Regions from separate parts of the Homo sapiens genome. Here region 2 is linked to region 1. Evidence: fine-mapped QTL for protein levels in blood plasma. A gene starts in region 1. The other region holds a variant in brackets. All regions are shown on one strand. Distances are from middle to middle. Region 1 holds the start of ADAM23 (ADAM metallopeptidase domain 23). Region 2 overlaps ADAM23 (ADAM metallopeptidase domain 23).

Region 1 (15,347 bases):
CAGGGCCGTAAGCCCAATCTTCTGATTCTTCAAGAGAAATCATCACACCCACCACTCTCTACCATATTATGCCTTTTTATCTTCTGCAAGCACGTGTCAATACCTAAAATCTTCATGTGGTTGTCATTGCTGCTCTGGACATGTTTATGGTCTGTCTCTTCCTACTAGAAGTAAAGCTCGCTGGGGAGCCACATAATTGGCACTCATCTATGCTCAATCAATATGCGCTCATCTCTTGACTTCCTAGGACTTACAGTTTGATATAGAATAAATCCAGACCCCCTTGTGTCTTCACAGTCTTCACAACCTTCCACCTTCACTTCCTGCCACTCCCAATACACCCTACCTCTCTTCAGCATGAGCTCTGCAAAGGGAAGACCTGGATTCAAATCCTGGCTCTCTCTGCCATTTACTAGCTATTTGTCCTTACTGAAGATACTAACTATAAATCTCAACTGCTATGTCTATAAATGCCTATGTCACTGGGTTCTTAGAGGAACTAAGTAGGATATTTAAAAATTGATTACAAATGTTACACTAGGCCAGGCACAGTGGTTTATGCCTGTAATCCCAGAACTTTGGGAGGCCAAAGTGGGCGGATCACCTGAGGTCAGGAGTTCAAGACCAACCTGGCCAACATGGTGAAACCCCATCTCTACTGGAAACGCAAAAATTACCTGGGTGTGGTGGCACACACCTGTAGTCCTAGCTACATGGGAGGCTGAAGTGGGAGAACTGCTTGAACCCGAGAGGCAGAGACTGCAGTGAGCCAAGGTCGTGCCATTGCACTACAGCCTGGGCAACAGAGTGAGACTCTGTCTTTGAAGTTTCCTACACTTGAGTTTCCCCTTCTTGCACTCACCACCCAAATAACCTGCTACTACCCAAGCAAGTCAGGCCTTTGCACCTGGAGCCTCTCCTCTGCCGATTCTGTGGCTCTTCCTTTCTCCACCTTCTGCACAAACTTAACTCCTAATTACTCTTTAGGGCCAGCTCAATTGCTTCTTCCTCTATGAGGTTTTCTTTGACTTCCCTAGGCAACGGTTATTCTCTCCTTTGGATGCCTACAGCCTTCTGTTCCTTCCACTAGTAACTGCACTAACATAAACCACACATCAGCGGCTACCTTGATTCTGACACTCCACCAGTGAGCAAAGGTAGGGACAAAGTGTTAGTCTTCTTCGTTTTCCCCAGAGTCTAGCACAGCGCCTGATTCAAAAGAAGTATTCAATAAATGTCTGCTGAATCAAACAAAACTGAACACCTACTATGTGTAAATCTGATTTACTGGAAACTATTTGAGTAGAAAGACACATCTTGCTCCACCATAAAAATAACAAAAACTACCAGCTCTTGATTATCACAATCACATTAATGATGGGTAGCAGTGAGAGACATTATCTAAGAATTGTTGATACAGGCATTTTTGCTACTTTAGGTAGTGTAAGCATATAGTTAGTGTGACTTATGCAGTGCTAAAAACTCAAGACCAAAATTATCTCTCCTCAGTAGCAGTGAGGAGCACAGTGCCAAAAATACTTGAGTATTTTGAGGGTCCTTTTGAATTTTAGTTTGATTATAACATGAATTCCATGGGAACCCCTATACTCTAACATATAAGTGTTCAATCATCAATTCATTCCACAGAAGGCCTACTACATGCCAAGCATTACAAGTAAAATCATTACAAGCCTGAATTCTATATATTACAATTTTGTAATGACTGCTTAGGAAGACCTGGAAAACTTGGGAAGGCTGTTTAGATAAAGGCAGCTCTTTAGATAAAGTCTAGGCTTGCTAAAGAAACTTCCAGAAGGGAAATCTTTTCCCCATGTTCCACAGTATAAAACTTTCTATTGATTTTTAAAATTAATTCCTTATAATAAAGGTCATAAAAATTTATGTTCCAGAATTGTAAAAACGTGTGCTAACATCTCATGGCAGAGACAGGTGGGAGTCTTCATCCTATGTTCCTCTTTCTGTTGTCCCATACCAACAACAATGGAACAACTGGTTTCTGGAAAGTCAAGAAATGTGGAACCAGTCCTATCCTAAAATAGAGAAGGAAACAAAAATAATCACCAAGATCTAAATTCACTTAAACTTCTCTCTCTTCTCTCTTCAACCTGGGGTGGTAGGTAGTAGAGAAAGCAAAAGACTGAGCCACACAGGTCAACTAAAGTCAGCTTTCCCCAAGGTCCGGTGCTATGCATCGTGCATCTCCACAATCCCTTCCCAACCAGAAGAGACGAGAATCCTAAGGGAGCATGATATAGGACAAGTAGTTTTTTAGGGGGGTTTTTTGTTTGTTTGTTTTTTGAGACAGAGTCTCATTCTGTGGCCCAGGGTGGACTGCAGTGACGCTCACCGCAACCTCCGCCTCCCGGGATCAAGCGATTCTCATGCCTCAGTCTCCCGAGTAGCTGGGATTACAGGTGCGCACCACTGCGCCCGGCTAATTTTTGTATTTTTTTAGTAGAGATGGGGTTTCACCATATTGACCAGGCTGGTCTCAAACTCCTGACCTCAGGTGATCCAACCGCCTCAGCCTCCCAGAGTGCTGGGATTACAGGCATGAGCCACCACGCCCAGCAGGACAAGTAGTTTTTGACTAAAGTTTCAGGAAAAGCTTCCTTAACTCTCCTAGGAACAGACCACATAGGATTATCTCAGAATGAATGAATGAATCTAAAGTGTTTCTCCTGCTTTTAAAATGTATGGTCCATTTTATTAATATATTGCATTAATGGTTAATAAAATGCTTATATTTAGTAATCATACAATTCCATTTACGCCCATAAAAGTCTCCACAAGTGAAAACGATCGATCTTGATAACAAAGTAAGAGATATAAGAAAAAAGCAATGTTTTTTCCTTCTCTAGTCTCACACAACACTTAACCCAACACTTCTGACATCTGACGTATGGGAGGGTTTTCCCCACACACCAAGTAATTCTGCAGATTCTCCATCACATACCACCTCGATGTCCTCCAATTCAATTCTGACACTCTTAGCCTGGAGACAGCGTCAGATCCACTGGTTGAAGGCCTAGTCCCACAAGCCTACAAATGCCCACTTCAGATGCCAATCTCAAGCCCCAGATGGAGGCCTGTGCTCCTGACAGATCAGCTATAAACTAGGGTAGCCACAATTCCCTTAAATTAATTTGCTAGAGCGGTTCACAGAACTCAGGAAATACTTTACTTACACTTACCATTTACATAACAGATATTACAAAGAATACAGATGAAGAGCCAGATGGAAGAGACACATAGGGCGAGGATCTTCAATGCCCTCCCCAGGAACTCCACCCTCCAGGAAGTTCCACATGTTCAGCTATCCAAAAGTTTCCAGAACCCAGTCTTTTGGGTGTTTATGGATGCTTCCTTACATAGGCATGACTGATTAAATCACTGGCTATTGGTGATCAACTCAACCTTCTGCCTCTCTCTTTGGGGTTGTGGGGTGCAAATCCCAAACCTCTAATAATGTGCTGGTCTTTCTGGTGACCAGCTCCCATCCTGAAGCTATTTAGGGACCCCCAGCCACCCATCATCTCATTGGCATATGAAAGACACTCATCACTCTGGAGATTCCAACGGTCTTCGAAGCTGTGTACCAGGAAACAGGATAATTACCAAATACATTTCACAATATCACACAAAGCAAAATTAAATTTTTCCATTTCAGACCCTAATACTGCTACACGGCAGGAATCTGACTTCCTAGCTAGCAAGAAAGAATTTATAATAAATCATCAGAAAATAAAATTGTCTTTAAAGAATCTTGAATTTGAGTAAGCACCAAAAATCAAGGAATACAGCATTTGGATCCAAGGTGTCAAAACTCCCTGCCTGCTCTAGACTACCTTGGTTTATGCCTACTAACCTGGCATAATTATTAGGAGTGCCCACTTCTACTTTAAAAAATGGCACAGTTTGGACAACTGGTTATACATCACTCTATGCAGATAAAAAAGATTTTTCAACATTGTTTGACAAAGAAACATTAAGGCATTCAGAAACATTAGGATGCAAAGAGGTGGTTTGCACAATCTGCTTTTACACTCACCAATTCTGGAAGAGTTAATAAACATGTTAACTTTCACAGCTATAAAGTAATAAAGATTGATCAACATTGAACATTTACGAAATTTCTTCAGACATAAATGTGGAGCTTGGCCTTGCAACCTATATTTGGGAATTTCCATTTCCACCTCTACCCCCAGTCTAGGGATCCATGAGAAAGGCACAGTGATTCAGCATTTCTAAGGCTTTCATTAAAATGTGCTTCAGTGCAATGAAATCAGGAGAGGGAAAAAAAGGTACATAACACAGATATTAAAAACTTCTTTACATAAAAGCAGAAATGAAATTCTATACTTTCTTACTGAAACATTTCTAAAGCAGCAGAACTGGCAAGTGTCTCTCATCACTGTTATTAAGCAAGTCATCCTAAGATACAGCAGAAAGCAGATGGAACACTTTTTATCAACTACTTCAAGAGATGCTTAAAAACAGAAGTAAAAGGGAGGTCACAGAACACAAAGGGTAATTTCAAGGCACCCACCAAACAACAACACTGTCTATACCTGTACGGGAGCACTTTTAGAATCTTGCTTATCTCATTTTCCTGCCTCCTGGAGGATAGATCATGTCTTTTCATCCTTTTAACCTTTATCTCTTATCTTTGAATACTTAGCATACCGCTTGCATATGAGAAAGGTGCAACAAATGTTTATAGAGTTAAACTAATAAGAAAAATGCTTTCAAATACGATTTCTGTAGAAACATTCTTTTCAAAGTACAGTATAAAAGAAACCCAACTATTCCTCTAGGTAAGCGGTGGGTACAGGTTTAACAAACCTTATTATCACGGAAGTCAGGTATATTACAGTCAAACCACGTCCCACCAAAGAAAACAGCCACATAAGGTTAAACTATAAGGCAAGCATTAGTCATAGCCTCAAACATCTGAGTTATTAAAAAGTGCCACTGAAATTTCAAGTCTCTGCTGAGGAGGGCTTGAGCATTCTTTGAAACAGGCTTTGAGGCAGCTGTTTTTCCTTCCTCCAGCATCCTAAGCAAAGGTGCTGGAGTTTGAGAACTAACCACTTAACTCTAAAAGGTCTCATTCATAAGGAAAGCTATAAAAGCCTCAATGCATTTTATCAAAAGGGCCTTGGATTTCTCTTCTTTAAAGACAACACCCATTTCTCCTATCAATAAGACAAATGAGTTAGACATGACCTATTAGTCACCCCATTAAGTTATATAGGAGCTTATGGAGAAAAGGGCTGGCTGAGAACAGAGACACATTTATCTCACGGTGGGTAGCAGCCACTTCAAAATAATGTGAAAGAAAGTTCACCTCTCCAGTAATATTCAAGGTGAAGAAAGCACTTTCTCAGAGACCTAACTTGTAAAAAATAGTAAAAATTAAACATTCAGGTCACCTGAATTTTATATTAGCTGCTTTACAACATAGGAAAATCACCCAAAAGCCTTAAATTTCTAGCTCCCCATTTGTAAAATGGGGATAAATACTGTTACCACTCACCTATATTTTAGAAAACTAATAAAAAACAATGATGTAAACTGCAGATACTTTCTTAAATTCTAGATGTTTAGACAGTTAATTGCTAACTGTTGTTCTCACCTGAACAAGTACAGATCAAAATGAAACATTTAACATACAGACTCTATTTTCTGCTCCCGATAAACAACAGAAGAACCGATAATCCATTGTTTAAATCTGCTCGGGGTTCAAAATAATATTAATTCAAGTAAAGAATAGTAACACAGGGAAAAAGATCCCTTAAACTCTTTGGATATTAAACATTTGTCTTCTACTGATACCTTGGTAAATATCAGTTCCACTTTCTGAACTAACCTGAAAGTAAAGCAACTGCTCATAATCAATGCAGAGTAGGTACTGAAGAATTATGCCAATCAAAATTGGTCTTCATATTATGCAAATAATTTGTGTCTAGTCACCATAATCTTTTTAAATGTCAAATTGTTTACCTATTGAAAATACAACAGAAAATTTTTTTTTCCTCCTACTGATCAATTAAAGAAACAGACTGTTTAAACACTCAATTTCTAAGTGGAAAGACTGATGGAGACACTGCAGCCAAATAGCTTCTTGAAGCAATCTTGCATGTGCAGATTGAAAGCAGTTTTTATATCATGGGAGACAGTTTTATATCAAGGCAGAATACTGCACCCTTACATAAAGCCTCACAGAAACAAGTTAGAATCATAAACACATTCACTTAACTACTGTTCAGTGCCCAATGTACCTGAAAGATACATGGATATCATTTCAGGTATCAGAAAATTCTAGTTCCAGTTTAGTCAGAGAAGAGAAACAACAGTCTTATCCCAGTAGATCCCAAGTTAATTCCTTCCAGTTTCTCCCCTATCATAATATTAATTGCTTTCTTAATAAAATGCTGCAGTAAAATTTGTGAACTCAGATTCTGGCAGAAAATCAAATCAAAGGAAAACTCTTCATGATAGTTACTTTTGCATAGCCAGCCTCCTGCCTACCTTATTATGTTTTTGCTGGTGTCTTGCCTTTGTGTCAAGAACGTGATAAGGGCTTTCCGAGTCTTGGTTGATGTAATATATGAGTCTTGAAGGCAGTGTGATTTCTTTCTGCATTGCATTGCTGTAACTGATATTACTGCTGCTATTCTGTTGCAATGTATTGTCTTCATCTGCCAGGACTCCCAAATTTTTTTCTGCAGTTTCATTCCAATGCGGAGCTGGTGGAGGTAGGGGGGTGGGGGAGCAGAAAATACAAACATACACAAACACACACATATTTACCCCATAAATACATAAGCACTAAAATGCATTTTTCCTTTAATTTCAAACACAAAGTTTTCTATTTATAAGCAGTTAAGAAGTAGAGCTAGAGTAAAGCAAGTTATTTCAACAATAAAATGGCCTGGAGAAGTTAATAAATAGCCAATAAGGCTTATACAACTGTGCACTATTTATTTTGATTTATGTCTTATATATACATTTCTAGTCAGACTCAAATCTATACTTCTAAGTGTTGGGGGGGGGGTAGAATGAACTTGAGGGAAGAAGAGTCATTAAATGAACATGTTCAGGGGTCCTGCCCCCGATCTCCACCCCTTCTCTGAGTCCACAGAAGCACAACTCTACTCTGCCTAGTGGCATCCCATCCAAGAGCTAAGAACGCTCCTAAGATAACTTGAGTACTGAATTTATGGATACCGAATATTAATCGACTCTTTTAACAAAATGGACAATTCCCTTCTCTTTTAACTTTAAGATGAGCAAACATACTTTGCCATGTAGGGATACAGATGCTGGCAGCTTCCCAATTTCTTTTTATTTTCCTGACAAAGCCAGCTTTCTGCTTTCAGTGACTTCCAATCATCAATATATAGAAGATGGTATTATATTAATTGTTCATTATAATGACAAGCACTTTGAGAAATCAGAACCAAAGGTCGTGCATGAAGTATGTCTTCAGCACCTTAATTCTTTGGTCCCCGAAGTGTGCCTCCCCCACCTTAATTCCAACCGCACTGAATGCGCCGGATACGAAATTTGAGGAAACAGCCCATTACCACTATTATCACTACATCCTCCCCGCATTCACATTAAGGTTCCACCACGCAAGTAGCAACTTGCTCCCTCGCTGTATTTCCCATCCACTGGTTGCCCCTCCGCAAGTTGCACAGAGATCGCTGAGGGACCCAGGATCCACTAAACACCTCCCAGTGGAACCAACAAGAATTGGAATGGGTTTTTCGCGAATGCAACAGAAATGGACTTCCAAAAGTGAACTGGGATGAATGGGGGTTTGGGAACGAGAAGGGTGGAAAGACAGGCAGGGAGGGAAGGAAAGGCCGAGCCGGGGACAAGCCCGGAGCACACGGACCCGCGCGCCCTTCGCTTTCCTCTGCAGGGCCCCGCGGGAAAGCCAACGCAAAGGGCACGGGGCCATACCCACCGCTGGGCGCAGCAGCCCCCCAGGCGCGGGGCCGGGACGAGGCGGCGAGCGGAGGCAGCAGGAGAAGGACGAGAAGCAGGCGGCAGGGCGGCGTGCGGGCCGGGGCGCTGGCAGGCACCGAGCCGGCGGGGCCGCGTTGGGGGCCGCAGGAAGCGCCGGCAAGGCTGCAGCCCGCCAGGGGCGGCTGCCGCGAGCTGCTGCCGGGCGGCTTCATGGCTCATAGCTCCCGGGCGCCGCTCCGTGTGGCCGGCGAGAGCGCCGGGCTAGCTGCGGGGCGGCCGCGGGCGGAGCCGGTCACGCCGGCTCGGCGCGCATGGTGCCGCGGCGGGCAGGGGGCTCCGGGCTCGGGGCACGGGGCGCGGGGCTCGGGGCTGGGCGGCGCCCCCTTTCCCGGCTCGCCTAGCCTCGCAGCCACTCCCGGGGCGGGACGCAGAGGAGTCCAGGGGTCCTCGCCGCTCCGCCAACTTGGAGCCTCCCCAGCGGCTACTCCCTCCCCCGGCGGGCGCGGCCGCTTCAGCGACTGCGGGGGCTGCCGCCGGGCCTGAGGATGCTGAGGCGGCGCGCGGGAGCGAGCGGCGCGGGGACGCGCGGGAGCGAGCGGCGCGGGGACGCGCGGAGCGGGCGTGCGCCCCGCCCCCCGAGAGCGCGCCCGAGCGGGGCTTCGGGTGCTGATGCTGTTGCTGGATGCTGTGCTGCTGCTGTTGCCTGGCCCGGAACGCACTGCGCATGCTTTGTTGGGGGGCGGGGAAGGGGGTAAAGCAGCAGAGTGATGCAGCAGCCCAAGCAGCATCGGAGGTGACGGGTGGTACCTCAAAAGATGGGGGCGGTGGAGGGGGAGCCGGCAGTCACGGATAAGCCAGAAGAAAGAGAGTACGGGGGTTTCCAGGCCAGAGACAGGGATGATCGGGAGAAAACAACCAGCCGAAGTCCACCTGCCTTTTCCACCACCCCAGACTTCACATACCCTCTCCTATTCCAACCTCTTCCTGCTCTGGATAAACTAAGGCCACGCATCTCCTTCTTAATCCCTTATATATTTGCTTCCTGCATGTAAATATAAAGGATTGCAGCCGGGGAGGTAAAAATAGCGCGGCTCCTCATTCAGATTGCCAGCAGCGGGTGGGACTGCGGCTGAGAAGAGCGTTTGCGCCGCAGGCTGGCGCGGAGTGGCAGGAATCCCCCGCGCAGGGGCGCTCTGCCCCGGCCTGTGTCCTCCCTGCCGGTGCCTGGGGTCTTTGAGGAAAGCACAAGAAGCCGGACGGTGTTTGCTCAAAAGTTCAGAAAGTATGACTGGGCATATTCGGGAAGGACTTCGACATTCTGGCGGGGAAGCAATACAGAGATTAGAAACCAAGTGTGTGGCAGCTATCTTGGGAAATCCGTTGTTTGTCAACCACGGGGATGGGCACACATTTAGGAGGACACATTTCTATTTTTGAGATCCAGTCCTGACTTCTGCAGAGGAAAGGGGAAGTTTTCTCTCGTTGCTGTAAAAAATGTAAATCCCTGACTTCGGTGGGTTCGCAGCCACTAAATCTGATGGCTTCAGATAAGAGTCTGTGGCATATTTCTGCCCCCAAACTCTCATAATGCAAGCATTCATTTATTCACCCTCCCAATGACAATCTGAGTGATAACAATGTTGTCTTACTCCGACATCCACGGGGTGAGGGCTGGGGTGGAGAATTCCATGATTAAAAGAAAGAATGTGGGTATAAAAGTGCCATGGCCATGACAGAACTCAGTGTTAGCCATCATCTTCTCCACTCACACTTAACAAAGAGAAAAGAAGAAGACATATACGCGCGCGCACACACACATTACAAAACTGTTAGGTAAATACTGAGATAACTTCCTTTCTATGTTGAGCTAGGATATTATTATCACATATTTATTCCTGTAAATTTGTAATTGTTGCTACCTCCCCCATGTGAGGGCAACAACAGTTTTCCCTTCTGCACACCATTGTGTCCCTAGGACCTCACACAGTGTCTGAGGCACAGAGAAATCGCTTGGAAAATATGTACTAAATGAATAAAGAAATGGGTGATACACACAAGCAGAAGTCACACTTGGGGCAGGCTAGTGAACACTCTAGCCCCACCGGAGTGCCCACTGCAGGTCAATGTTCTTAGGGTTGTCTCCCTCAAGTCAAGTATTCTCTGGCTAGGTTTTCCAAATTTATATTTGACACAATATGCATCCTGAAAAAGGGCCTGAGAGAAAGCAAGCCAGAAAGGAGATGTACAAGCAATGAGAAGGGAGAGGGAAATGAAAGGTGCAAAGCACCCAGATGCAAGTTACTTGAAAGGCATCTCTTGCAATTCAGTGACAACCTCTTAAAGTCTGTTCTGATAAATAAACCTATCAGCCAACCTGGACTGACCAAACCCACCCACCAGTTACAACACATCATTTCATGCACTTGGGGTATGGAATGAGGATTCAATATAGTTTCTTTTTTTCTTTTTTTTTTTTTTTTTTTGAGATGGTGTCTTGCTGTGTCACCCAGGCTGGAATGCAGTAGTGCGATCTCAGCTCACTGCAACCTCTGCCTCCCAGGTTCAAGCGATTCTCCTGCCTCAGCCTCCCAAGTAGCTGGGATTAGCTGGGATTACAGGCACGTGCCACTACACCCGGCTAATTTTTGTAGTTTTAGTAGAGACGGGGTTTCACCATGTTGGCCAGGCTGTTCTCAAACTCCTGACCTCAGGTGATCCACCCACCTCAGCTTCCCAAAGTGCTGGGATTACAGGCGTGATCCACCGCACCTGGCCTCAATATAGTTTCTAATAAGGGGTTGGGGTATTTACAAAGAGGGATGTTGTCTTATGTACTATAGTCAAAAGACTGCATTTATTTACAGAACTTTAATGGTTACAGACATTGCTAGAGTCAAAATAAGATATCAATAAATGAAATAATGAGTCAGAGAAAGAGTACATTACTTAGAAAAAATTTACTGGAAGTTTAGTCTTTAAGCCATATATTTAAGGGAAGGTTAAAAACAGAATCAAATATTAACTGATTAAATAATTTAATTGGTCAACTTGGTAGAGTTAGTAATATTCTTATTAGGTAGTTCAGAATTTTTATTTTTATAGAGTTTACTTCTAAATATTCCCCTCTGTGCTTTCATAAGATTTAGTGACTTGCTTAATCACTTGCCACCTACTGCTTTGCTCTGTATTCGTGTATGTGCATATCATCATTCTTCCATCAAAAAATACTGAGAGCAAGGCTGTATCTTGGTCATCTCTGACTCCACAGCCTAGTATAGTACCTGGAATCAAATCAGCATTCATAGAGGGGCACTCACAGGTAGGAAACAGAGGGATTCAGCAAGATGGACTGGAATAAAGAAATATACCAGAAGCTTGAGTGCTATAATGGCCCTGGTTACCAATGTGTGTTGGATCCTAAGGCCATCAGAGGATCACTGGAGTGATCTAGTCACAGTGGCAGACATGGAGAAATGCTGCAGTCGTAGGTGAAGGCAGGTGGCCAGAAGGTCCATGGGAAGGAAATTACACCAGGCAATATGGACCCTAGGTAAGCACCATGAGGGGTGCATGTGAGCAATACCCAGGAAGGGTCGTCATACTGTTCACAAAAATGGTCCATTGGTCTGGTGAGGGAGGAGATCAGAAGGTCTCTATTTGCCAAAATCTGTTTCCAGTGGTAGAACTGGACCCACTTTGCAACCAGTGAGAAGACTGGGTCTGGACAGGAGCAAGCAAAGGACAGAAATAGAAATATTAGATGTAGCAGGCCTTGGCCTCAAGAGGGCTGAGATGCTAGGGGAGAAAGTAGAAGAAGGGGATGACAGAAGAGAGGTCCAGAGGGTAAAATAAGTAAAAAAGCAGGGGAAGGTAGCAAAGCAGACTTACAAGAGCAATTGGAATGGAATAAGCATTTGCCCAAAAAGTCAAGGTCAAAGAAGGTGTGCAGCAAATTAGTGGATGGTGCTGATACTAAGAGAGATCTAGGGAGTGAAAGCAAGAGCATGAACAAGCCTCAAACAGCAGCTCTGGCTCAAGAGCAGCTTATACCCAGGAGCTCGCTGGGACAGCCTGTGTTACAGAGCCAGCTAGAGAAGGTTTCTCAGCCTCCTTTTAGAATAGCTGTGAAGACTGATTTTACCAGCGGAAGTGGATACTTCAAAGGAGAAAAGACAATGCATTTCTTCATGAAAGTAAAAAGCGAGTGTGCTTCGTTATTGGTACTTGCCACGTGGTTCAGGAGTCAGCAAACATTTTCTGTACAAGGCCAGATAATAAACATTTTGGGTTTTGTGGGCCATATGGTCTCTGCTGCATTTTTTTTTCTTTACAAACCTCTAAGAATGTGAAAACCATGCAGCCTACAGGACCTGGTTTGTCAGCTAGCCATTTTTAAATCTCTCTCTCTCTCTCTCTCTCTCTCTCTCTCTCTCTATATATATATATATATATATATATATTTACCTTAAATATATATACCTTATAATATATACTATATATATACACCTTAAATATATATATATGTAAGGTTAAATTTTTTTCATCAACTGTATTATGTCCTGTGCATATAAGCAGAAAAAGCGAAGGAAGCGTGTGCCACAATATAGAGGGCTCTAATTCTAGAAAAGATTGCTCTCCATTGTAATTTAGATAGTTGTTTAATCAGTAAGTAGTCACTAAATTCTCAAAAGATGTTCATCATTTGAAGGGATCCCTTAGGAAAGAAGTATTTCTCCTTTTGAAGCCAATTCTCAGATGATGATAATGGGAGAAAAGTCAGAAATCATTCACCAAAAAAAAAAATACAGATGTCAAAAAGATTCTAGACATTTCTTTTGTTTTTCCAAGCTATACTTTCTTGTGAGTAGGGGATGCTGAATGGATGCTACAGCCATGAGTGGTCAGAGAATGGAGTAATACATGCACTCTAGTCCTTCCCAGAGCCTGTCACCATCTGGGATCTGCCTGTGTTCCTCAAACTCAATCCTGTAGAGCGGCCATGCGGCAGGGGATACACACTCCTGACACAGAGCCACACCCCATGTCACAGGCAACCTTCAAGTTCATGAAAATTAGTCTGCAAGTCTGCAGGTCTGTGTTAATTACACCACTGCTCATTCTGAAGACCAGGACAAAGTGGGACAATTTCAAAAGTCACTGTGTGACTAATTTCAACACGACTGGGAAAAGAAAAAGTATTCAATACCAAAAGACCAATGGCAACGGACATTTCTAGGGGAGTAGTGGAACAGACAAAAATGTGTTACAATGTCGAGCATGAAAATATCCGAAGAAAGGTAACCACAGAAGAAACCTAAAATTGAGTTCTTAAAGGAAATTATGTTAAAAGGAGTTTAATTAGGAATTCAGATAGTATAAGATAAATTTGAAAACAGTTGATTTTCCCCCACTCTAAAACATTAGGTTTGTTTATCTAACAGTTTTGTGTGTTTACAAGCTGGGCACAAAGGGATACATGAGCATGTCATGGTGATTCGTGGTGATAATATGTGCTCTGCAAAACTTGGAAGAATTGTGTTTATTAAGAATAATCGCTGAGTCAACACATAATCATTAAGTCCTCACTGGGTCACAGAGCAGCACTAGGAGTTTCTACAGAAGTAAATTACCACGTCCTACTGGGGGTGGGAGTGGGGGCTAAACTATAGCAGCTGAATTGCATATGAAAAGGTTAGAACCCCAGCAGACAGAATTAATATGCTAATGTAATCCCATCCGCTTGCATAATAGCAATGGCTAAGTCCTTTAACAATGCCTGCTTTAATTATTACTGTGCACTTACACACTGCAAAGTGCTTTTGTCTATATTATTTTACGTGATCCTCAACATTGTGACACAGGGCAGTTACTGTTATTGTTTTTAGGAGCCCCACCTTAGAGGTAAGAGTGCTAAGATTCACAGCTCTTTGCAGGGATCCTCGATCCCTGCACATTCAAATCACCTAGAGAGCTTTTTTAAAAACACTTTTATACATTGTAGGTGTACAATGTGATGCTTTGATATACATAGTAAAATGATTACTACAGTCAAGCAGATTGACATATTCGTCACTCACATAGCTACCCATTTTTAGTATACAATACAATATGAATAGCTGTAGTCCTCATGCTGTACATTAGCTCTCTAGACTTAGTCATCCTACACAACTGCAACTCTGTACCTTTTGACTACATCTCCCCTAAGTCTCCCTCCCATCCTGCCCTCTGCTGCCCTCCACCCTTGGTAGCCACAATTCTAGCCTCTGTTTCTATAAATTCAACCTTTATTTTTTAGATCCCACATATCAGCGAGATCACACAGTATTTTTCTTTCTGTGTCTGACTTATTTTATTTGGCATAATGACCTTCAGATTCATCCCTGTTGTCACAAATGGCAGGATGGCCTTGCTTTTTGATGCTGATTAAAATTTCGTTGTATAACTGATTTGATCTTTGCAAATTATATGAATGTATTAAATGATCCCATGTACCCTGAAACTACATGCCTCTATTATGCAGCAATTAAGAAAGAAAAAAATTACATACATACACAATTATAATTTCTTTATCCAATCATCCACTGACAGACACCTCAGTTGTTTCTATATCTCAGCAATTGTGAATAATGCTGCAATGACCACGGGAGAGTGCAGATATTACTACAAGGTGATGATTTCACTTTGTTTGGGTATATAACCAGAAGAGGTATTGCTGGGTCATATGGTTGTTCTCTTTTTTTCTCTCTCTTTTTTTTTTTTTTTTTTTTTTGAGATGGAGATTCACTCTTGTTGCCCAGGCTGGAGTGCAATGGCACGATCTTGGCTCACTACAACCTCTGCCTCCCAGGTTCAAGTGATTCTCCTGCCTCAGCCTCCTGAGTAGCTGGGATTACCGGCATGTGCCACCACTCCTGGCTAATTTTGTATTTTTAGTAGAGACAGGGTTTCTCCATGTTGGTCAGGTTGGTCTTGAACTCCCGACCTCAGGTGATCCACCAGTCTCAGCCTCCCAAAGTGCTGGGATTACAGGCGTGAGCCACCGCACCCGGCTGGTTGTTCTCTTTTTAATTTCTTTAAGAACTTCCATGCTGTATTCCACAATGGCTGCACTAATCTATTTGGTTGGTGCAGAAGTGCCATTAAAAGTAATGGTGCCGGCCGGGCGCGGTGGCTCACGCCTATAATCCCAGCACCTTGGAAGGCCGAGGCAGGCGGATCACGAGGTCAGGAGATAGAGACCATCCTGGCTAACACGGTGAAACTCCATCTCTACTAAAAATACAAAAAATTAGCCAGGCGTGGTGGTGGGCACCTGTAGTCCCAGCTACTCAGGAGGCTGAGGCAGG
Region 2 (15,347 bases), 73 kb before region 1:
AGACATACCCTTCACCTTCCACCATGATTGTGGGGCCTCCCTAGCCAGGTGGAACTGTGAGTCCATTAAACCTCTTTTTCTTTATAAATTACCCAGTCTTGGGAATGTCTTTATTAGCAGAGTGAAAATGGACTAATACAGCCACTGTTTTAGGAAAGCCTTGAGTAGGTGCCTTAGGCTCTCTCAGTGCATAACATCAGTAGGTGGATCTGGGCAAGAGGAGTCAGCAGTGTAAGTTGTGGAAGTCAGGAAGCTATGAGATCACATTCACTGCAAGACACTGAACTTGTCAGGTGGTGACTAGCCATGCACCTTGCCATACATCTTTGTTCCTAAGTAAACAGTAGCACAAATACCCTAATTCAATTCTCAGTAGTAAAACATGTAAGTTACTTCCATATGTGTTCAAATTGGGACTGGAACAGAAGTTAAACAAACAGTAGAAAAATTAAATGATATCTAGAAAAGGAGTACCACAAATGCCCATATTTCTCATGCAAAGTCAGTCATCTGATTATCTGCTGCTTGAAAGTACTTAAGTTCTCAGTACTGGGAGCCCTAATCACACCTAAATGAGCGCTGACATTCATCCAAGAAGTCTCCTACCACCCCTTCCTTCCAGGTACACATTTCATTCATTTAATGACAACCAATGCTGTCACTGCGGAGACTCTCAACTTCATGGAGCCTCGAGCGTAGTGACATTGTTATGCCCAAGGCTCCATGAAGCCACAGTGAAGCATCGTGCCCGCTCCCTCTTTCCATTAGAAGCTTCTCTGTTTTGTCCTTTTATACACATAAGATATTTTAAATTCACTAGATAATTACTGTAAGTGGTAATGCAGACACAAAATTTAAACTCAATACATTCATATAAACATAAGCTTGTATCCTACAATTATGCTTGCTCTTATATTTCTTTTCTTTTTGTAACAGAAGACTTTAAAAGTATAACAATTTTTCAACCATTACTTTTCTAAAGTTTTAAAAAAAAAATAGACTCATACCACCTAAAATAGTTTTCATACCAAAAGTTGTTTCAGCTAAAAAATATACACTCCTTTGAGTGTAAACAATACAGTAAGAATTTTAAGCTACGTTAAAAGATCGAGGACATGGAGAGGCTGGGATTTAAGCATGTAGCAATGATATATTAAGTGGGTGAAAATAATTATAGGTTGCATAGAGGCTTTGCGTTAAGTCAGACAAAGATGGCATGCCCGGCAAGGGCTGGTAAGTGTGGGCACATTTCATAGGAACAGAACTGCAGGCAGAGAATGTTCCTAGCATGAATAGGTTATAGAGGTTTTTCTTTGGGGGTAACAAGAGAAATTTAATGATCTCCTAAACCATATGAGAGATTGCAGTGGAAATGTAAATGTGTAGGTACTCCTGCATCTCAGGTAATGGTCCCATTAGCCATAATAAAGTTTAGAAAACCCTAGTATAATGAGGACAGGAAACATAGGCAGGCCTGCAAGCTAATTGTAGAGTGGAGAAACAAAGAGTTAGGAGACTTGAGGTGATATAAAAGCTGAGAACCCTCACTCAGCTGGCTTGATCAGCCTAAAAGCCAGTGAGAGTTCCCTTCTGAGGAGGGTGGTATCAGAAGAAAAATCTTTAAATAAAAGATGAAAGATGTTTCGTTTCTTCCCCTTAACTTAAAGCTCGACCATATGAAGTGGATAACACATTTCTAGTTGTGGCTACCAGTGTCTCTCCAAGTTTCCAGTAATTTTGAGATTCCTTTATGACAGAATCATGGTTACTTTCACAATCTAGTTTTACCCCCGTATGTCATAAAACCAAAAAAAAAAAAATTAAACACAAGGAAAACTGGATCCAAATAAAAAAGGCCTATCTTCTGCACATAGTTACACATCACTGAAATGCTATGATGAACAAATTTCAAAGCTAATAATGAATGTAGTTGGTGACTATTGCTAATCCAGCTTCTTTTCTGATACATCCAATATTTATTAACATAACTATAAAGCAAGCATCACACATAGAGAAATTGCAGAGAACAGAAGAGGATCCATGATCAGCTTTGCCTTCTGGTAACCTTGTACAGAAGAAACTACTCTCTTCCAAGTCCAGTTTTTGCCACATTCTAGGAAAAGAACTCTTTTCATTTTTTTACTTTTTTCTTTACTTTTTTCATTTTTCATTCTATACAGAAAAACTGCACATCTGTTTATATGGTGTTCTATTCTTCCTAGGTATATATAAAATAGCCAAAAGAATAAAAAAGAAACCAACAGAAAAACTATCAGAAATAATAACAGTTAAGTAAGGTGACTGGTTACAAGATAAATATGCAAAAACAAAACACATTTCTAGATGTACAACCAACAAAAAACATCTAAAAATAATCTAGGGGGAAAAGTTTCTACTAACAACAACAAATTTTATATGTGTACAAATATAGTTGAATTTATTTATATATGTATAATGTACACAGAGATATATATATATGAATATACATACATATATATTTACATACATATATATAACCTATGAATAAACTTGGATTTAAATAAACATGAAGAATTATGTATACAACATGCAACTCATGAAAAAAAGAAAACAAGAAATATTCATGGTGATCAATCATACACCAACCTACAGCTGCACTAGCAATAAAATACCTGTGAATTAAAATAATGAAAGAGATCGTTTTCCCCCATCACTTTAGAAAATAAAAATGAATGACAGTAGCCACTGCTGGCAAGGATGTAGGAAAACTGGCATGCAGAGGGCAATTTGGCAATAGGTATCAAAAGCCCTGAAAGCATGTTCACCCTATAATCCACAAGTTCCACTCATAAGGGTTTCCTGAGGAAATGACTAGACAAAAAACAATACATGCATGATGTAGGTGAGAGCAGCTTTCAAGGCTTTCACACTTAGAAAGATGTTCACAACATCATTCAGTGAAAAGAAAAATAAAAGAATACTATGCTTGGCAACTTTTTAGAAGTATGTTTATATACATACATTCACATATAGAAAAATGTCTGAAAAGGTGTATACCAAATGTAGCAGTGAGCTACTGTTTCCTGCAGAACTTTCAAGAGTTTTTATTTTCTTTCTTTTGCTTAACTGTATTACCCAAAATTTTTACAATGAATGTATACTGCCATTTTAAGACGAAACCACAATACAAGCTATATTTTTAAAGGAAAAGAAGCATAGTTCCTTTAATAAAGGAATTATTTAATTAAGGACTAATTTCGAGTCCAGGAAACACCAGGAACCACAGACATTCACAATACCACCACCTACCATGCAGGGAGCAGCAGCTGACCAGGCTTTCCCTACATCCCCTAAACTCAATGAGACAGATGTTCCCTGAATATCAGCTGGTGGGAGTAGGTAAAGACAAAAAGAGAAACAAAATGCCTCTCACCGTCAAGGTGATTATAATCTCATTGCTAAAATAAGCCAAGGCAGCAGTTAGCCTACTACCATAAATAACAAACAAAGCATCAAGCAGCCCTCAAGGAGAAAATTAATTTCAATTAATATGATCAGGGAACCCTTTAGTGAAGAAGCAGGGCTTAGGCAGTCTCTACGATACAATTTGGACAGGGAAATATGGGCAGGAAAGAGAAGATCCTATAGACAGGGACCACTGTGTACAAATCCATGAAACAGGAAAAGGCAAAGAGGCCTATTCAGGGAAAAGCTAAAAGTCCAGTTGAGCTGGGGCATCAGTGATATGGGGCAATAGTGTTGAAAAGGTGGGTTTAGAAACAGTGATCCACAGGCTTAAGCAAGGGGTAGGACTTTCAAAGGAAAGGGAACTCTAGAACCAGAACTCAGAACTTGGAAGGCTATTTATAAAGGCTGAAAGCAAGCAGAAGCTGCAAAGACTTCAGGACCTGGGAAGGGCTGAACACAGATAAGATTCTTTTACTGGGTCAATTAGAGCCATCAGCAAAGTAATTAATGTTAGCAGCAGGAGAGAACGGCAAGAGACCAGCAAAGACATTAAGGAGCAGCCTCTCCACATATGAAAACCTGTGGCTTTAACTGTCCTCCACTCATTCAATTAACGGCCGAAGATACTGAGTGAGAGAAAAAAATAAGAAGAAGAGAATTAAAGAAATGATTAACAAAGATAAAGGTTTTTAACTAAATGTTGCCATTTCTTTAAATTCTTTCACTGTAAGTTATAGATGTTTGTCCTAAAATTTATTATGCAAATGCTAATGTGTACTTTGTAATTTTACACTGTTTTAATAAAGGAAGAGTAAGATTTTTGTAGAACTACTACTATTGTCTTTTGTGTGCTCTCTTCCTCTCTTTTTGTCCTACCTAGGAGAAGCCCAACTCTTGATTTCTCCTGCACCACCACAACCTGAGCCTGGAATATATCTACTGGCTGAACTGAGACAGGGGCCTCTGTAGAGCAAATCCCCAAGAGACAGACTGAGGGCATGTCTGCACAACCCTGTAAAGTAAAAGGCATTTGAAGTTGTCACCCTTGATTTCTCTGTACTATACAGAAAACAATATTCTGTGCAATCATGGTACCCTTCATACATATAACACAGGAATCTTTAGAGATGATAATCTTGCTCCTTTTTATTTTTTATTTTTTTGAGGCAGGCTCTTGCTCTGTTACCCAGGCTAGAAGGTGGTAGAAATATCACGACCCACAGCAGCCTCAACCTCCCAGGTTCAAGCAATTCTCCCACCTTGGCCTCCCAAGTAGCTGGGAACCACAGGCATGTGCCACCATGAGTGGCTTATCTTTTTTATTTTTTTGTAGAGATGGAGTCTCACTATCTTCCCCAGGCTGGTCTCCAACTCCTGGGCTCAAGCAATCCTCCCTTCTTGGCTTCCCAAAGTGCTGGTATTAGAAGAAATAGCCACCTTGCCAGGCTGGTTCTTCTTAAATAGTAGATATGTTTAAGTAATTGTCACAATGTAGCAATTAGAAACATACTTCTACAGTAATCTCAAACCAGTATGGTAGATAAGAACACAACCTACCAAGAAGAGAAAGAGAACAGAGAATTTTTAATGCTTTCTTCATGTGGGTACAAAACTACTATCATACAAAGTGGCAACTATTTTTTTAAGTTATCATTTAGAAAAATGACCTTCAAATAAGCCCACCTTCTGAGCACATTTCATAGCATCACAAAAATTGTTCACTGGGACTTCGATTGTTTAAAAAAAAGTCATGATTGTGCTTTGCTTACCTAAATCACAACTAATTTCTCTAACAAACAGAATTTTCATTCTTCTAAATTATGTACAATTTTAAAATAATAACAAGCTAAGATACCTCTGAAAATTACAGAATATATTGGAAAAACTATCAGTCATTTGTAGCTTCTTTGGAAAGGATAATTCTTCCAACTGGTGTGGACTTTCAGATTCAGTGTTGTTTATGAGCGTGCTAACCGGCCCTTTTTCACTGTGCTGTCATATCCTGTCACAGGGGAATGCCTGAACTAAACAGGCACCCAGGAGCTGACCATCTCTGAGATCTCAGAGAAGTAACTAACATTGTCCAACTAGTCTTCTCCCTTACAAAAACCAAGAATGTTGAATTATAGGGTCTCCAAGAAAACTTCTAAGTCTAAAAGAGTGAATATGAGTATGATTGTCATCATCTCCTACCTTAAATATACACCTAGGCTAAACTGGAAGTTGAGGACTATTAACACACACGTCTATTTGATATTTTCATCTATTTGATACATGCTTTGTCAAATAATCAGCTATTGCATACTGGGATGACTTCAGGCCCATCTTTTTCAGAAGGTGCTGAAAGAACAGTTCTATTCGTATTGCCTATATGCTGTAAAGAGCTGCTGAAATTTTCTTCTAATTCTACATATTTCTATGTACCTCAACAAAAAGACTGTACCCCAATTACCAAGATGTAAAGTGATACACTCTTTCTACAGATTAGATTGATAACAAAATTCCTTTACATAGAAATTCATCTGAGAGCTAATGATCAAGATCTGCTAAAGCCACAGTTGCATTAACACCAAACTATTTAAGTGGTCTGCTGAAAATCAGACAACACAATTAGAAAACCATCACTTAATTGTAATTAAAACAAATTTTAAAAACCTGAGAGTCATGCTAACATGTTTTTAATCACAAAGACACTAAAAAATAAATATACTGAAAATATAAGTACTCATCCAGCAAAATCTTATAATAAGCAAATTTGATGACAATTGATGTCACTTTGAAAGACATGTATAAAATAGTGATTAGAGGTGCATAATTTAATCTACTCCAGGCTAATTATAGAGTCTAGACATTTTGCATAATACTAAAACTGAATTTTTATCTTTTAACTATTATTAAGTATTTACACTCGATTCTCTAAATATATGTCCTGAAATCATTTTAAATAATTATGAGCACACACATTCCTTCTATCCTAATTAAATATAATGTGCCAGTAATAAAATCCAGTGGTAGTAGAAAAATGCAGAACAGATCTATAAATCAGAACTTTAAGACAATTTGTAAAAATGAGCATTTTTCCTGCAGCCAGACAACTTTCATTAAATGGTCTTAAATTTTCAGCCCATGTAGACTATCTTACTCACATTCACAAAGTGCCTTGCAGTGTTTGGATCAAAAGCAAAACCTTTGTAAGATTCCAGAAGCAGCCAAATCCCAAAGAGACTGACACAGAAAAAGAGAGAAACTATTCTATTTAGGTCTTTCAGAGGGACTATTTTTAATTTAATCTTAAAACCAGACATTTTTAGAACCCTGGTAGAAATGCTAGCATTAACTGTATATGGTCCATTATGGCGAATTTACTATCAGTATCAGTTCCAGGAACCAGAATGGTTAGGACTAGAGAAGATATGAGAAAAGTCCTAAATGAACTGATTCACATCCAGGAAAGCCACACCAAGGTTGGTAACTCATGACAGGGGTAGAAAAATGAAGTGGCCACTCCAGGAAAAATCCAGAAGCTTGTGGTCTAGCAGAGTCAAAATTCTGGGTCAAGAGAAATGCCTATAAAGGCTAGAGATCATACCAGCCTGTGGACACTAGAAAAGCAAACAAGACTCTCCAAAATAACCATCCCATAAAAAGGACAGGCACCACATTGCATCCACAGTTCTTGGTATAGCTGCCTACACAGAGTAGGCATTCTAACATTTGTTGATGAAGAGTCAACAAGTCAAGCAGCTCAGAAAAAAACAAGATGGCACACCATACTCAAGACAGGAATCCACAGGAACCTGAGGGTCCTAGAGGCAGGGCTTAGCCCCCAGGTAAGCAATGAGGGGTCTGAGGTAGCACACGGCAGTGGCAGCAAGAAAACTTTGAGACTCGGGCTACTTTCTGTCTCTATCTTTTGCAGATAAGTATCTGTGAAGGCAAAAGTCAATCCCAGGCAGTCAGCCCATGAAGACTGGGAATGTGAGGCTGAAAGAACAAAGGATGAGAGCAGACATGACTGCAAGATTACTTCAGGAACAGTCCTCTTTAGTATATTTCAAACAGAGCTTTACAAAGAAAGTGCATACGTGTGTTTAGGTGTATGTGTTGTGTGTACGAGCGTGTTTTTTTATTTTAGCAAGCTTACTATTATTTTATTTTTATTTATTTATTTATTATTATTTTAGCAAGCTTACTATTGTAAGACAAGGAAATGCTGCTGGTGTATGTCCACAATGATCAGGAGGAAATGAGGTCAGAAGAAGTTGTCTGCCCTCAAACTGCTAGGCCAAAATAGAAAATTTCCAATTATTCCTTATCAAACAAGGGTAGGTTG[G/A]GTGCCAGCTCACTGAATATTTGCATTATATGTACGTGAACTTTTCTTTTTACACTAGTTCTAATTTCAGTGACACAGCACGAATAGCTGAAATCCTTCAAGAGTGAACGTCTGTGCCCTCCCAAAATTCATATATTGAGGCCCTAACCCCCAATGTGATGGTACTAGGAGATGGGGCTTTTAGGAGGTAATTAGGTTTAGATGAGGGCAAAGGGGTGAAGTCCTCTCTTTTTTAAGAAGAGACCAAAGAACTTTGTCTCTCCCTCTCTCTCTCTACCATATGAAGACACAGCAAGAAGGTGGCTTGTCTATAAGCCAGGAAGAGGGTCTCTGCCAGCCACTAAATCTTGAGGTGCCTTGATCTTAGACTTCCTAGCCTCCAAAACTGTGAGAAATAAATGTTGTTTAAGCTTCCCAGTTGATGAAATTTTGCTATAGCAGCCTGAGCAGACTAAGACAAGCATTAATTCTCTCCTCAATCCTAAACAAATTATTCTTTTGTGGAATGTTAGAAAAAAAACGCATTTACATTATCTTTATTTTTTTCCTGAAAATTCTATTGTTACTATTTTTTATCACTACTTGGCTTTTTCTTTCTTTTTTTTTTTTTTAATAAAAATGCCCAAATCTTCCATGTAAGCTTCAGGATGAGAGGTTACCTTGGGTAGGAGTTGGGGTGGGGGAACGTGACTGAGAGGAACACAGAGAGCTTCTGAGACACAAGCAATGTTCTATTTCTCAACCTGGATGGTGGGTATATACGAATGTCCATTTTATTACTCTTCTTTAAACTGGGTGAATATATTTTCCACTCCTTTATGTGTACATTTCATAATTTTCATAAATTAGAGGAAAAGAAACCCAAAATGTTTACAGATAATAGAAAGAGAAGAGCCCAGCCCAATTCTGACATTAAAAATTTTGAGTATGAGACAAAATGAGCCAGAAACAGACCCAGGAAAAAGCCTCTGGAATTAGAAAGCTGTCACTACTAAGACCAGAACAGGAAAAAAAACTCTAAAGAACATGTGGGAGGTGAAAAGCACAGAGAGAACAAAAGGCAACTTTCTCCTTCTCTAAAAATAGCAAGCCTATTAGGCCACTTTTAGACTCCAGTCTAAAAGTGTTCACATAGGAGTCCATTTATATTAAAACAGTAAAACTTAGAAAGGAAAAAGTTCTTGGAGGATGCCAAAGCATGGAAAAGTTCAAAAATTTCACGAAATAATAGACCAGACAGGATTTGAACTATATCTGACTTTATTACCAAAATAGTGAACTATCAGACCAGAGAGCTGTAGGAGCAGAAGATTAAAGGGTAAGACAAACCAAATCCTTCCCCACACTGTTTTTTTCTATGGAAGGACACAGGAGCAAAGACTGTGTGTGGTGCAACATGGAGCAAATCTCATGGAGCAAATCTCATGGAGCGTGCCACCACAACAAAGCTGGTTTCAAAATAAAATGGCAAGGGAAATTATCCCGTGCCCTTCCCTGGAAGAATGTGCAAACTTATATTTAATTTTTAAAAAACAGATCTTGCTTTCAATCACCAAAACTGCCGTGGCTGGAAAATATCAATCTCAGTTGTTTCAATGATCACTAGAAAACATATTTCTGAGTTCATAATGACAATAAATGTCTTCCTTTTCTGACTCCCATATTCTCCTACTGTAATAAGAGATGTTTGTACACAGGAAGGTGAAATTCATGGATGATAACACCAACAGTGAATCTAAAGAAAAGCAAGACCTATGATCACGACTATACTGAGATACAGGCATACCTTGGGGATACTGCAGGATCTGTTCCAGACTACCACAATAAAGCAAGTATCACAATAAAGCAAGTTACACAATTTTTTGGTTCCCCAGTGTACATAAAAGGTAGGTTTACACTATACTGTACTCTAGTCTATTATGCATGTAATAGCATTATATCTAAAAATACTTTATTGCTAAAAAACGCTAATGATCACCTGAGCCCTTCAGCAAGTTGTAATCATTTTGCTGGTAGAGGGTCTTGTCTTGATGTTGATGGCTGCTGAACTGAGTGATCAGTGGTTGCTGAAGGCTAGAGTGGCTGTGCCAATTTATTGAAATAAGACAACAATGAAGTTTGTCTCATTGATTGACTCTTCATGAAAGATTTCTCTGTAGCATGTGATGCTGTGTGACAGCATTTTACCCGCAGCAGAACTTCTTTCAAAATTGGAGTCAATCCTCTCAAACTCTGCCCAACCAAGTTTATGTAATATTCTAAATCCTTTGCTGTCATTTCAACAATGTTCACAGCAACTTCACCAGCAGTAGATTCCATCTCATGAAACCACTTAAGTAACTCTTCATCCATTCAAGTCTTATCATGAGATTGCAGCAGTTCAGTCACATCTTCGGGCTCCACTTCTAGTTGTTCCTCTCTTACTGTCTTTCTACCACGTCTGCAGTGACTTCCTCCACTGAACTCTTGAACCCCTCAAAGTCATCCATGACGGTTGAAATCAACTTATTCCAAACTCCTGTAAATGTTTATATTTTCACCTCCTTCCATTAATTAGGAATGTTCTTAATGGAATCCAGAATGGTTAATCCTTTCCAGAAGGTTTTCTATTTACTTTGCCCAGACCCAATAGAGTAATCACGATCTATGGCAACTATCACTTTACAAAATGTAATACAAAATGTATTTCTGAAATAATAAGACTTGAAAGTTGAAATTACTCCTTGATTCATGGGCTTCAGAATGGATGTTGTGTTATCAGGCATAAAAACAACATTAACCTCGTACATCTCCATCAGCACTCTTTGGTGGCCAGGTGCATTGTCAATGAGCAGTAATATTTTAAAAAGGAATCTTTTTTTGTCCTGTGCCATAGGTCTCAACAGTGTGCTTAAAATATTCAGTAAACCATATTGTAAACAGATGTGCTGTCACCCAGGCTTTGTTGTTCCATTTATGGAGCACAGGCAGAACAGATTTCGCATAATTCTTAAGGGCTCTAGGATTTTCAGAATGCTAAATGAGCACTGGCTTCAACCTAAAGTCACAAGCTGCATTATCACCAAACAAGAGTCAGCCTGTTCTTTGCAGCGTCGAAGCCAGGTTTTGAGTTCTCCTCTCTAGTTAGGAAAGTCCTAGATGGAGTCTTCTTCCAATAGGAAGGCTGTTTCATCTACATTGAAAATCTGTTGTTTAGTGTAGCCACTTTTATTAATTATCTTAGCTAGATGTTCTGGATAACTTGCTTCAGCTTCTACATTAGCACTTGCTGCTTTACCTTGCACTTTTATGTTATGGAAACAGCTTCTTTCCTTAAATCTCATGAACCAAATTCTGCTAGCTTCAAACTTTTCTTCTGCAGCTTTTTCATCTCTCTCTGTCTTCATAAAATTGAGGGGAGATATGCTCTGGATTCAGCTTTCACTGAATGGAATGTTTTGGCTGGTTTGATCTTCTATCCAGAACATTAAAACTTTCTCCATATCAGCAACAAGGCTGTTTCACTTTCTTATCATTCCTGTGTTCACTGGAATAGCACATTTAATTTCCTTCAGAAACTTTTCCTTTGCATTCACAACTTTGCTAACTGACTCAAGAGGCCTCAGTTTCAACCTGTCTCAGCTTTCAACATGCCTTGAAACTATGCTTAGTAATTCCTACCTTTTAATTTCAAGTGAGAGACATGTGACTCTTCCTTTCACTTAAACACATAGAGGCCGGTATAAGGTTGTTAATTGACCTAATTTCAAAATTGTTGTGTTTCATGGAATAAGGAGGCCAGAGAGGGAGAGAGAAGGGGAATGGCCAGTCAGTGGAGAAGCCAGGACATACACATTTATCCATAAAGTTCACTGGATTCTATGGGTACAGTCTGTGGTACCCCCAAAACAACCATAATAGTAACATCAAACATCACTGATCACAGATCATAATAATTTAAATAATAATGAAAAAGTCTGAAATACTGCGAGAATTACCAAAATATGACACAGACAGAGAAGTGAGCATGCGCTGTTGGAAAAATGGTGCCAATAGACTTGCTCAATGCACGGCTCCCAAAAACCTTCAACTTGTTAGAAGCACAATATCTGCAAAGCACAATTAAGTGAAGAACATAAAACTAGGTATATCTGTGCACTCATTTTATATAGTTCAAGGCACTTCCAGATGCTTTTTGCTCAAAAAAAAAGTCTTTTTCAGAGTTTCTATTTTTTCATCAAAGACAATACGTTACATTGTTAGACTATTTAGAACATCCAATAATTCTAAAAAGGGTTATTCTAGGAATGTCTTCACATGCATGCTCAGAGGGTCAGATCAGTATTATAAATTGTTCTATTTTTATACAAAAGTTTTTAGATCTTGAGGCCATGTAACGGCACTCAATAGCCTTTTCAGCTGATTATAGTATCTAAAACCAGAGGACATTTTTGAAATAGCTAGCAATTTAAATACCCACACTAAACTGCAATTTAAAATCAGAAATGATGAGTGAAGTAATAGCATAATGAGGCTTTTTTCCTTTTTTCTGTGTCTCATGCCTGATCATTCTTACAATTCTTAACTAGAGAAGAATTTGAATTTGTTCGTCCTTTAAGAGGCTATTAAGCAGCTTGTTTAGAAAATTGAAAGTAATTCTAATTTTTAAACCCATAATCTCATGAAATAAGCATGTGGCTATCAGTTCTCTTTATCTCTTTTATGTGAATTCTAAGCATTACACCATTTCCTACAGTTACCTACATTTCACCACATATGTCATTGAAATTACCTTCTAAATATTCCAAATCCCAGTCATCTGCACCTAGTGTTGAATACCTCAGTGAATGTTCCTAGTTAACAGAACCTCATTCGTTACCTTGTCATCCAAGGCCACTGACACTGTAACATACCTAGGGAAATATGTAACAATCAAAATACTTCCAGGGAATGAAAATGTTTCCTTCCCTCTCATTTTCTGTCTTAGACTATCATTAATTTTTCCTTATTTGGATTCCTTGCACAGATAAGTTCCTCATAAATAGCAACAAAGGAATAAAAAAAGAGGAATAAAAAATTACTACACATTCCCTACAGAAAGAAATTAGTCCAATTTCAAGCTGCTAAAAACTACAAAGCTAAATACTGAGAAGTCTAAGCCAACACATGCATCCCCAGAATTTCAACAGGTCAGAGGACCTTCTAGGGGTGAAGTGAAGAAATGTGAAAGTTCAAACGCCTGCTTGCCACACAGAGCTCCAAGGAGGTTCTGCTATGAGCTCCACTGTCCTGATTATGCCCCTAGGGAGGGATGCACCCCTCCAAGGCAGAGAACAACAGACTGGTGAAGAGTGATCAAAACAACAAACTCCAAACAAGCTGTGGAACCCTGGCTCACTCTTCCCTCCCTGTCCCCACTGGCTCTCCTCCCCACACTCTGCTTCAGCAAATAGCTGTCCCCATGCATGGAAGAATCATAATGAGAAAGAAAAGAACACAGATAACCAGGAAGAAAAGAAAGAAGGAAAGTAGCAAACCGCAGGGGAGATGAAGGATATGCATCATAAGAAAACAGAGGAAATGTTCAAATACTCTGATCTCAAAGAAATTATAGAAAGAACCTCTTTTGTAAAAGGACTTCAAAGAGACATCATAAAAGAACATGAAAAGGCAGCTGGCAAAGCTCAGGAGAGAAAAAAATGAAATAAAAAATAAATAGTACAAGGGTGCAACCCAAATTAGAAAAAGGAAAAACAACGAAAATACAGTCAGGAATCAATGATAAAATGGTATAGAGATGATAGACAAAAAAGATAAAAGATACATCTTGTTGGTAGGTACTCCTAAATAAAACACATGGAAGAGAAAAAAATAGGTAAAAATATAACAGAACAGAACTTTCCTAAAATCAAAGAAAGACTTGAATTTGCAGCTCAAAAAACTATACCATGTTCCTGGAAAAACTGGTAAAACAATGAACATAAATAGTGTTAGTACACCTGGAAGTTACTGATAAAGAAAAATCATATGACCATCTAAGGCTGAAAAAGCGAGCTCTCTAAAAGGAAAAACTAGGTGGCCTCACACTCACTGAGCAAATCTCCAGCTTAAGCTGAGCCATTTCTATAAAGTCCCAGGGAAAGTATGATTCAAAATTTCATGTCCAGCCAAGTTATTCTTCAAACACTTCCCAACTGTTGAAGAACTCATGAAATACAACACTCAAAAGTCTTTCTCAGACAATCTGCTTTTTAATTAATTCCAGTCAAGCCAAACACAAATAATCCAGGAAGTATGGAGAAACCATGCTAAAAAGACCCATGATGGGCCCAGTTATTTTAAGTAAAGAATTGGTATTTATTGTGGTTACTAAACAAAACACAAATTTAATAAATCTTGGCAATGTAAAAAGAACATTATAACAGGTGAGAATGAAGTGAAAGAAGTCTTAGTATATAAATTTCTTCTCTTCTTAAATATACAATCTGAGGCATTTCTTTTTAAACGACTCCATACAAAGTTCTTCACAACTTTAGTAGGATTTTTTTAGCAAGTAATATGTTTTGTTATAAAGAAATACAGTATTTGTCTGATCTTCACCAATTCCTTTCATTTCATTTGTTTTTCTTTTAAATTTAATATTTATTAAGCCCCAAAAGAAGGTGCTCATAATTAGAATCACAGACCATGAGTTCCTCCACGTATAATTCCTCCTAATGTGATTTCATGCACAGTATATGCACTTCATAACTATGATGCATAATTAGAAAGCAAAAACTAGGAAGGAACTAAATAAAGAGACCAAGTCTAGGAAATGAGTCTCAATTCAAGACTAACTGCAGTCAATTGGGTCTGACAATCTACAAAACTATGTTGATAAAGATTCTGAGCTCAAGTCTGGGATCCAAAGGAAAGACTCCTACAACTATTAGCTAATGTCAAAGCCACGGGCTCAGGAGGAGAGAAGGAATCACTCATGTGTCACACAGCCACTACTGATACTTGTCTTCATTACATAAAACTTATTACCATAGTTTATTTTTTGTTATATAATTTTAACTATGAAAATAATACAAGTTCATTACAATGTCAAAAATACAGAGGTAAAGAAAATACAGGCTGGGCGCAGTGGCTCACACCTGTAATCCCAGCACTTTGGGAGGCCAAGGCCGGCGGATCACCTGAGGTCAGGAGTTTGAGACGTGCCTAACCAACATGGTGAAATCCCATCTCCACTAAAAATACAAAAATTAGCTGGGCGTGATGGCGCATGCCTGTAGTCGCAGCTACTCGAGAGGCTGAGGCAGGAGAATCGCTAGAACTCAGGAGGCAGAGGTTGCAGTGAGCCAAGATCAAGCCACTGCACTCCAGCCTGGGTGACAGAGCGAGACTCCATCTCCAAAAGAAAAAAAAGAAAAAAGAAAATACAAATAATCTCCCCCTGAAAAATAAATTTAATATTGTATTCAAATTTTGTTAAATTTAATCATTTATATTTAAAATATCATTATAGAATAATCTCATATGTGTACACTATCAAGCCTTCTATCAGTATACATACAGAGTTCTCTGAATTAAGTTTAACAAT

The links. A credible set is the group of variants that fine-mapping cannot tell apart. PIP is the chance, under the fine-mapping model, that this variant and not a neighbour inherited with it causes the effect. The UK Biobank Pharma Proteomics Project read protein levels with antibody pairs (Olink). The fine-mapping took linkage between variants from a reference panel, not from the people measured, so its PIPs are less certain.
Region 2: its variant is the best candidate, but not a certain one, in a credible set for the plasma level of the ADAM23 protein (UK Biobank, PIP 0.86).

What each region holds. Positions count from the first base shown.
Region 1 is chr2:206,436,733-206,452,079 of GRCh38, reverse strand. ADAM23 (ADAM metallopeptidase domain 23) reads right to left here and starts at 8,548. Exons shown (of 26, transcript NM_003812.4): 1 at 8,000-8,548; 2 at 6,556-6,773. The coding sequence starts at 8,213. RefSeq lists a silencer at 7,974-8,103.
Region 2 is chr2:206,509,278-206,524,624 of GRCh38, reverse strand. All of the region lies in intron 3 of ADAM23 (ADAM metallopeptidase domain 23), which reads right to left. Among named protein-coding and RNA genes, the nearest start is that of ADAM23, 73 kb to the right of the region's middle. The variant G/A (reference allele first, on the strand shown) is at 7,781.